Linked DNA regions of Homo sapiens. The protein of the gene in region 2 interacts with the protein of the main gene of each other region in a pairwise test. Each region holds a gene or a part of one and is shown on either strand. Other genes may lie near its edges.

Region 1 (5,400 bases), on a different chromosome or scaffold from region 2:
AATCATTGTGGAAGTTGAAAGAAATGCAAGGCACGTCTTACATGGCAGCAGGAGAGAGTAAGAGCGAGGTGGGAACTGCCAAACACTTTTACACCATTTCACTCATGATCATGAGAACAGCATGGGGGAAACCGCCCCCATGATCCAGTCATTTTCCATCAGGTTACTCCCTCCACATGTGGGGATTACAATTCCAGATAAGACTTGGGTGGGGACACAGAGTCAAACCATATCACCTCTCAACAAAGCAACAATTGGAAGAGATCCAGGCATTGTAAAATGTGGAAGAAGAAATATATTCTGTAATAGTGGGAAATATTACATTAGGTATTAGAATGCTCAGTCCTGACTCCTCATTATTCTAAGACAAAAGTATAGCCACATGAATTTATTTTTGAATATCTATGTTAGTTAATAAAGTAATGAGTCAGACACTTTATTTAGGCTCACTTCCATCACTAATAAATGGTTAAAAGATGCTGGAAGTCAGTTTGAGATTATTTTTCTTCTCTCAACTAGTAATACTGAATGCAGAGAGAAACATTTTGAATTCAGTATTGTTTGTGATATGGAGCCTCAGGTAGGGATTGTTGAATCCCTCCCTTGCTATTCAAAGTGTGTTCCATAGAGTGGTAGCATGAACACCACCTGGGAGATGCTTAGAAACTGCAAAATCTCCTGGCCCCACACTAGATATACTGAATCAGAATCCGCATTTTAACAAGACCTCCCAGTTACTTACTAATATGTATATTAATGTCTGAGAAGAACTGAAGTAAAGTGAAATCTTACTTCCTGTACAACAGAGACTTTTAAGAGCTGGTGGTCATAGAAACAAAAACTTGAATTTTCTTTTGTCTGTTTTCGCATTTGTAAAGAAATATGCGATCTAAGCATTCTCCATTATACATTGTATGACAAATACAGATCAGCTTTGTTCCATTCTGAAGTATGCATTGTATCATTAAGAGAAAAAAACTACACCAATGTCATAGGTAAAATCGCTAAGCCTCTGAGTATATCCACTCACATTGGTGACAGCAATGGCTTTACCATTGAAATGATATTTATCCTAATTACTTGACTTTTCAACAGAGTGTTACAGAAGAATATAGTTGTATTGGGTTCACTGTCACCAACATCCTCAAGGGGAATGGTATGTTGTCTCTTTGCTGCCATAATATATCACCACAAAATTATTGCCCTAGAACAACCCAAATTTATTATCTTATGGTTCCAGAAGGCACAAGTCTGAATGGGTCTTTTTGGGTTAAAATAAATATGTCAGCAGTACTTTCCTTTTTGGCACCTCTAGAGAAGGTTTTGTTTCCTTGGCTTTTCCAACTTTTAGAGGCTACCCCCAAAAACAAAAGCAAAATTTTTCCTACACTGACAAAATCTATCTTTGGATCTCTGTTTGAGATATTCTGCCTTAAGTATCTTTTGTTTTTGTTTTATTTTTTTCATTTGAAGAATAAAGGAGGAGTTTTACCTGTGGCTATCAGATTTGGGGTTCTACTCTATGAGACTTTTAAGTCATTATGCAATTTCTTTATTTTTATTTTTTTGACAAGAAGTCTGGAGCATGATTACATTATGCATTTTCTTACTCTTTAAAGTATTTGTGGGGATAATCCTTCATTATTTGATTGGCAAAAATATATATGTTTATAGTGTGTAACATGGTGATTGGATATATGTACACATTGTGGAACAGCTAAATCAAGCTAATAACAAATCAGTTACCTCACATACTTATTTTGTGGTGAAAACATGTAAAATCCACTCTCTTAGCAATTTTCAAGCATCCAATACATTGTTATTAACTGTAGTCACCATGTTATACAATAGATCTCTTGAACTTATTCTTCCTGTCTAACTAAAATTTTGTATTCCTTGATCAACATCTACCCAATCCCTCACTGTTCTCCAGCCTTGATAACTACCATTCTACTCTCTGCTTCTATGAATTTGACTTTTTTTTTTTTTAGATTCCACATATGTGAGATCGCGCAGTATTTGTCTTTCTGTGCCTGGCTTATTTCACTTAATATAAAGTCCTCGAGGTTCCCCTATGTAGTTGCAAATTACAAGATTATTTTTTCTTTGTCAATGCTGAATGGTATTCCATTTTGTATATATGCCACATTTTCTTTATCCATTCATCTGTTGATAGACACTTAGGTTGACTCCGTATCTTGGCTATTGTGAATAATACTGCAGTGAGTGAACATGGGAGTGCAGATATATCTTCAAGATACTGATTTTATTTCCTTTGGCTATATATTGAGAAGTGGGATTGCTGAATCATATGTGGTAGGAGTTCTATTTTTAATTTTTTAGAGACCTCTATACTGTTTTCCATAATGACTGTACTAATTTAAATCCCCACCAAAGTTGTACAAGAGTTTCCTTTTCTCAATGGGGATAAATTTATGCTTTCACATTTTCATTGTCTAAATACATGTGTGTTTGTATGTTGTTTCTACACTATATATGTGTATGTTTATATAATGTTACCTACTTACCACTTGATGGTGTACTTTGAGGGATATCCCCCTAACCTCTAATGTGTGACTAAATCTTTTTCCCCTTAATTTGTGCAGGTTGATGTAAAATCAGGAATGAGAGTTGTAAGATAATTAAATAGTCTATCTCTTTGTGTATGTACTTCCCTCATTAGTAAGTTAAAATACAACCTACATTTTAAAAGTATTAACAAGACTGTGATTTGCAAGATTGTGAAATGTTAGCTTTCAATGGTTGTGGCAGTACAAACACTCTCCAGTGAAACATAGAAGTGATTTACCTGCACATTTTTTAGGGCTAGAAATGTACAAAGAAACACAATTTATTGAAACAAAATTTACTCAACGAATATGAATGAATCAAGGTACTACTTAGCTCATTCGGAGACGCTGTATATCACTGGTCATTAGTGCCATATATCACTGTCATATATTTTGTATGGATGGATGCATGTGGGATTACATAAAAACAGAGCCAAAGGAAATAGTCATTCAGTTGAGTCCCTATTTATGTTTTTGTCATTCAGCTGTTTATCCATTTGAAATTGATCTTTTTACTTTTTTTTAGTATTTTTAATTTTTTTATTCTTAAATTTTGTGGGTACATAGTAGGTGTACACATTTATGGGGTACATGAGATATTTTGATATAAGCATGCAGTGCATAATAATCACATCATGGAAAATGGGCTATCCATTCCCTTAAGCGTTTATCCTTTGTGTTACAAACAATTCAGTTATACTTTTTTAGTTATTTTAAAATATATAATTAAATTATTTTGACTATAGTCACCCTGTTGTGCTATCAAATACTAGGTACTTATTCTTTCTGATATCTGATGGTATGATTAGGTATTTATAGTTTTAGGTGTATATTATTTGAACACATTACCATGTGAATAAAGCAAGTGTCATTAAAGGCTAATACATTTTTATCATTGATTAAACATTCTGAGATCCAGTATATTTACTTGCTAATGCATTTATTTGGTAGAAGCTTTCTTTAGAATTTAGTCATTAGGGATGTAGCTATAGACATATATGTCCCTTTATATTTTCATATATTTATGTGGAGTATGTGTACATAAAATTTTCTTGCAATTTGTGTTCATGTCACTATGAATATGTTTTATGTAGCTGGCAAAACTGAATATTAATTACATAATTTTAAGTGTGTTTTAAAGCGAGGTCAGTGAACAATTTCTTTGTGCCCTGAGAAAATCATATGATAAGTTTTTATTAAAATCTCCTTTTGTTTCTATTTTCACCTAAGCAATATAAGTTAGTTTTATCTCTAAAAAGACAGATAAGAGATGTGTACAATACATTTCAGTAAATTCTAGCTTAATAAACAGATAATATACTCTCATAGTATTAGAATAAACAGATGTCTGTCACTAGACTTTATGCTTTGAAGATGCTGGAATTTATTTTTTACAATATCTAAAAACTTGGTGAGATGATTTTAAAATAAAGTAAATAGAGAGGTGAATCCCCATCTCTACTAAAATACAAAAATTAGCCGGGCATGGTGGCCAGTGCCTGTAATCTTAGCTACTCGGAGGCTGAGGCAGGAGAATTGCTTGAATCCAGGAGGTGGAGGCTGCAGTGAGCCGAAATCGCGCCATTGCACTTCAGCCTGGGCAACAAGAGCGAAGCTCCATCTCAGAAAAAAAAAAAAAAAAGCTTTTTGTAATATTAAATTTGTACTAAAAAATTCTGGAGTGGCTTCCATGCATATGTGGACACGATGCTATTTGTTGGGCTTAACTTTCACATTCTTAAACATTTTGAAAGATTAAACTCTTATTGCATAGACAGGGATCTCAGGATCAGTCTTTTTTTTGCCATCATAATATCATAATGTACATATCCTTCATTTGAGGTTCATATATAAATTGTGTAGGAGTGGATTGATGTACTTTAAAAGAGTTATTCGCAGTACTGATGGCCAGTTGATGATATGTTAACTAGTAACAAAAATAGGCTTGGCGTAGCACATTACAGTTTATTAAGTATTTTAATGAAGATGACACATCATTTGAAGAAGAATAGGACAGGTTTTATAGTCCCATTTTCCAGATGAAGGAACTGAGGTTCCAGAGGTCAATTATCTCTGCTAAAGTCACAAGACTAGCAAGTAATGAAGCTTAAGAGCTTAATAGGATGGAGGTATCCAGACTCCTAAAGCATTCCCACTCCACCACTCCAAAAGGTCACCTGAATTTCTGCTTGTAGCAATGATGAAGTAACAGTAACAGGATTTCCTCTTTTACCTTAAATATCTAAACACAAACAAACAAACAAACAAAAACAGAAAAAAATAGAAAATAATGAATTTTAGACCTTTGACAAAAGGCAGCACAGGACCATGATTCTTGAGAGAAGGGAGACAAGATGAGCCTTATGAATGTCCCAACTTACTGCCTTGGGAAAGTTTCCAGACAATAGCTCAGGTGAAAGGAGCCCAAAAAGGCTAGGAGTCTCTCTGTGTTGAGAAGACATAGTTCAGAGTTCAGAAAGTACAAGGGTGCCTACAATTTGAGGAACAGTGTACTGGAGAGAACATTGCACAGTGAAGGAGAAAACTGCATATGGAGAGAGCTTCAGAAATCTGCTGAGGGACCCTTCAAGTTTCTGAATAATGATCAGCTCAAGTGTGTGATGAAACTGATGAGGACAGAGAAAGAACCACAATAAAGAAACAGGCAAATCAATCCTCAGAACTCACGGAGGACCAGGAATAGTTATGTTCCCACTAGCCAGATTGGAAAACATCATATTTCAAGAGGCATTTAAAAAAGTCCTCACAAGGGTATTGCCTGAGTAATGGAGCAAATTAGATCTAGAATAAAGGCAATTCTAGATTTGCC
Region 2 (5,400 bases):
AGATAGAAAAGACATGGTATAAGGGGCAAAAAAGTACAAAAGGCAAAAACCAGAAGAGGATATGACAATACAAATAAAATCAGCTCTTGATTAACCATGCTAATGAGGTTGAGGGAAGACTATTTATTTTATTTTTAATTGACAGAATACAAACATAGAAAGATTACATTTAAATTGAAGAAAAGAAACTCTCCATCAAAAGAATATAAATAAAAAAAACTTTGTTTATTTTCATTATTATTATTATTATTATTACTTTTTTTTTTTTTTTTGAGATGGAGTTTCACTCTTGTTGCCCAGGCTGGAGTACAATGGCACAATCTTGGCTCACTGCAACCTACTCCTCCCAGGTTCAAGCAATTATCCTGCCTCAGCCTCCCTAGTAGCTGGGATTACAGGCATGTGCCACCACGCCCGGCTAATTTTATTATTTTTAGTAGAGACAGGGTTTCTCCATGTTGGTCAGGCTTGTCTCAAACTCCCAACCTCAGGTGATCCGCCTGCCTCGACCTCCCAAAGTGCTGGGATTATAGGCGTGAGCCACCACACCCAGCCTAATTATTATTTTTTTAAGACACAGTTTCACTCTGTTGCCCAGGCTGGAGCACAGTGGCACGATCTCAGCTCACTGCAACCTCTGCCTCCCAGGTTCAAGTGATTCTCGTGCCTCAGCCTCCGGGGTAGTTGGGAGTACAGGCACATGCTACCATGCCTGGCTAATTTTTTGTATTTTTAGTAGAGACAAGGTTTCACCATGTTGGCCGGGCTGGTCTCGAACTCCTGACCTCAAGTGAGCCACCTGCCTCAGCCCCACAAAGTGCTGGGATTACAGGCATGAGCCACTGTGCCCAGCCAAAAAAAATCTTTTTAAAATATAGATGGTAGCAGGCCGGGCACAGTCGTCACGCCTGTAATCCCAGCACTTTGGGAGGCCGAGGCAGGCAGATCACGAGGTCAGGAGATCAAGACCATCCTGGCTAACATGGTGAAACCCCGTCTCTACTAAAAATACAAAAATTAGCTGGGCGTGGTGGTGGGTGCCTATAGTCCCAGGTACTCAGGAGGCTGAGACAGGAGAATGGCGTGAACCCGGCAGGTGGAGCTTGCAGTGAGCCAAGATCACCCCACTGCACTCCAGCCTGGGCAACAAAGCGAGACTCTGTTTCTAAAAAAAATAGTTGGTAGCTTATTGGAGTACATGATATAATTGCTCAAAAGGCAAGAGAATACAGTCATTAACAGTATGAACTCTGAGTTGGGCACAGTGGCTCACACCCATAATCCCGACACTTTGGGAAGCTGAGGTGGAAGAACTGCTTAAGCCCAGGAGTTTGAGACCAGCCTGGGCAACATGGTGAAACCCTGTCTCTACAAAAAAATTACAAAAATTAGCTGGGCATGGTGGTGCTTGCCTGTCGTCCCAGCTACTCGGGAGGCTGAGGTTGGAGGATCACCTGAGCCTAGGGAGGTCGAGGCTGCAGTGAACCATGATCATACCACTGCACTCTAGCCTGGATGACAGAGTGAGACCCTATCTCCAAAAAAAAGCATATAGGGCAACAAACGGAAGCAGACTAAGATAAAAAAATAAATAAATACAGGTTAAAAGGAAGTAGGTAAGATAGATAAAGGATAAGAGATGAACAGATTTGTGATAAAGCAAGTATAAAGTTAACAGTAGAATCTGGGTTGTGGGTATATGAGTGTTCACTATAAAATCCTTCCAACTTTGCTTTATGTTTAAAATGTTTCATAATAAGCTAGGGGAATAAAAGGAAGTAGACACAGAGGCATCAGCCCAAGTTCTGAGTCATAACCATGCTACCTTCCTGTCCTATGAGCCCAAACTCCAGGGCAAGCTTAGAAAAACCTGATTTGGGAATCCTGCTCATCAAGACTTTCCTGCACTAGATAAGCAGGAATCAGGTGTTAACGAGGACCACCTTGGCATGAGTAGATATAGTCAGAGGGCAGAAATGCAGAGGTTCCACGGAGAAGTACCATGCTCACAGCACTATGACATTGTCACCCCTGCTCAGGAAGACCTCAGGAATAAGGCTCTGGATAAAGAACAGGTGGCATATACTCACTCATGGACTCTGTTGTCACCATAGAGATCACTCAGGCCGAAGCTGATGTAGTGCCAGTGCTCGGGGATGTTAGCAGAAGGGCTCCCCACATTCCTGTACATGCTAACATAGTCCAAGGGGTCTGGGCCACCCAACCTGCAAAAAACAAAACACAGGGGTGTTAGTGTAAGCCTGGAAATCAGACAATGTCAAGCTAAGGCGCTCTACTTTGTAAACCTAAAGGACCCATCCTGGAGGAACCTGGGTGAAAGGTAACTAAACAGAGGCCACATCTCTCCAGAATGAGACTAAGGGATGGACAGCTAAGGCTGCCCAACTCTGCAAGCCCAAGAGGCTCCCTTCTCCTACCCCTGAAAGACTGGGCCTCTTTTAGAAATAAAACAGACTGGATGGTTACCCATTTTGCTTTCTCCTGTTTCAAATTACCGATCCCAAATGAGATTGGCAGGGATTGTCTCTCTTCTGTGGTGCCTGTATACATGCCAAGCTTCAAGGCAAGAGGTACATCAGTCAATCAATTGGCCTCTGTTGAAAGACCATCCCAAGCATCCCCAATGGGCATTGTTCCTGGAAGCAGAGGCTCTGCTCCACTCCAGCCTCTTAGACAGCTAATTCCTGAAAGACTATATTGTGCCCTATGTTAATTACAGTTTGTTCTAAACAAACCCAAAGCCTCTAGTCTGTGCTGACACCAGCCTGCACCCCATAGACCAAAGCTGGTCTCTTATCATTGCAAGTGACAAAGGCCAAACTTAGGCTTAACTTAGTTCTGCACAGAGAACTGCAGAAGGAGTCAAACTGCGCCCTGTGAGCATCTGCACCCAGAAAATGATCCCAGGAGAGACTGCCACATCAAAGGTAGAGCTGGGATGGTAAATGATTTGGGGCCTCTCAGGACCACATTAAATTTCCCCCACCATTCAACTGAGAAGGAGTTGCGGAAGAGATTCAGTTATTATCTCACTCTGAGGATTTAATACAATAAGAGTTCCCTTTAGTAATCAGTGCTTTTTAAAAAAAATCCTGTTTTGGCCGGGCACGGTGGCTCACACCTGTAATCTCTGCACTTTGGGAGGCCGAAGTGGGTGGATTACTTGAGGTCAGGAGTTTGAGACCAGCCTGGCCAACATGGTGAAACCCCATCTCTACTAAAGATACAAAAAATTAGCCAGGTGTGGTGGCAGGTGCCTGTAATCCCAGCTATTTGCTATTTGAGAGGCTGAGGCAGGAGAATCGCCTGGACAACAGAGGCAGAGGTTGCAGGGAGCCAAGATTGCGCCACTGCACTCCAGCCTGGGTGACAGAGTGAGACTTTGTCTAAAAAAAAAAAAAAAAAAAAAAATGGATAAGAAATTTTGGTAGCTAGAGAAATAGACCAAATAGAAACCATCAGTGGAAGGAAGTCTGCATTTAGCCCACAAACACGGCATTTGAGCTGCCTCAAACATCTGACCATTCCACAGACTGCAAAAGCTTCACCTGCCCCTGGGACATCGATGGAGTACACTTTGCAACTGGGATAGCATGCTGGTGGAAAGCTAACAACCAAATAAAAGACATGTTACAAGTGATCCCAGTCAATGGTGCCAGCACCAGGCAATTTAAACACTATTTAAAACCAGTTGGTCTTGTTTCGTCCTCTTTCACCAGGATATTATTTGCCTTTGTGGATAGAAATCCCTATTCTCTGTTAGGAAATGCTAAGTTATTTATAGAACTTTTAAGAAAGTTGCTACAAATAGCTTAGCATCTCAACAGAGGAAGAGGGACAACTCTCCATGTCTGCCTTAACTGATTTCAACAAATCACTTGACTAATTCTACAACAGGTTGGATTTAGAAAAGTTTGTGGGGCAAGGGAAGAAAGAAAAGAGTAGAGATCCCTGGAAAGACCCCATTAGAGCTACAGAACTCCAGAGCAGATGAGAGCCACTACAGGCCCCATACCTGCTCCAGTTTCCTGCTGCAAATTTCCAAACCTGCCCCGCTACAGCCTAGGTCCATCCTGCACCAAGCTGCAAAACTGTGTTTACCATTCTCTGCTCCATCTGCAGCATCCCTGCAGCCCTCTTTCTCACCAAGTCTCCCACAAGGTGTCACATCAAGGAGAGAAGCTTAACCTTCAAACTCCAACTGCAAGGAACTACCAAGAGTCAGATAAAATTAACCCTGTCCCCAAGCACAGAGTATTCTGTTTACTTACTACTCAGAGGCCAGATGAGTATGTGGAAAAAAATCGCATTTTACACTTAGCAAATGATGTTATCCAAGGTCCCAGGGCATCCCTCAACTTAATTCCTTGAACACCCAACTTCTCTCTGCAGGGCAGTTGCAGGACTGAAGTGGGCCATGAGTACAGGTTCTGCCTCTCTGCTTTGATCCTTGCTCACCAAAGTCTCAGCTTTCAGTTAGAATGTCCCCACTACTCAGGGATCACCAGTCACAGAGCCACACTGCTATTGCAAAATGAATCCCAAGCTACCCTGGGCCACAGACAGACCCAGACAGCCTGGGTCAGTCATCCTGCTAGAAACCTCGTGGGATCCCAAATGTGAGGAATATAAATGAATTTCAGGATCTTATTTTTGCAAACCCCTCCACATCTTAGAAAGTACCAGTCACTGATGGCTGGTCGCACTGGCTCACGCCTGTAATCCTAGCACTTTGGGAGGCCGAGGTGGGTTGATCACTTGAGGTCAGGAGTTCGAGACCAGCCTGGCCAACATGGTGAAACTCTGCCTCTACTAAAAATACAAAAATTAGCTGGGCAAGGTGGCGTGTGCCTGTAATATCAGCTACTTGGGAGGCTGAGGCACGAGAATCGCTTGAAACCGGGAGACAGAGGTTGCAGTAAGCCAAGATCGTGCCACTGCACTCCAGCCTGGGTGACAGAGCAAAACTCTGTCTCAAAAAAAAAAGAAAGTACCAGTCACTGTGCTGTTTCTCTTTATACTTTTCTGCATCTAGGAAGGGCTTTCACAAAGTGCTGTATAATCCCTTTTCTTCATTATCACATGTTGGCCCATCTCTGAAGATATGGCTGTTAACAAGCTTGCAGCAGGAAGGAAAAAAAAATTGCCCTTAGTCCTTTGCACATGCTTTCATACCTTTTACATACAATTCTATCCTTTATGGCTACTTGGGTGACATAAAAATAGTTGCCTGAATCTGTGTAGGGATTTCTCCTCACACTCAAATGAGGCCTGAACAAACAGCGTGGCAGAGCCAGGCCCACTTCTTTTTTTTTTTTTTTTTTTTTTTTTTTCAAATAACAGAGTTAGGGTCTGGCTACGCTCCCCACACTGGTCTCG

What was found. The genes of interacting proteins can lie anywhere in the genome.
Region 1: the proteins of SUFU (region 2) and HDX interact in binary tests that used the Homo sapiens proteins (3 or more experiments, as listed by UniProt).

Annotation. Positions count from the first base shown.
Region 1 is NC_000023.11:84,491,724-84,497,123, reverse strand, and holds part of HDX (highly divergent homeobox), read left to right. Parts: intron 1-5,400.
Region 2 is NC_000010.11:102,505,994-102,511,393, reverse strand, and holds part of SUFU (suppressor of fused homolog), read right to left. Parts: intron 3,116-5,400; exon of another isoform or gene 2,488-3,115; intron 2,226-2,487; coding exon 2,091-2,225; intron 1-2,090. UniProt on the Homo sapiens protein: Negative regulator in the hedgehog/smoothened signaling pathway. Down-regulates GLI1-mediated transactivation of target genes. Down-regulates GLI2-mediated transactivation of target genes. Part of a corepressor complex that acts on DNA-bound GLI1.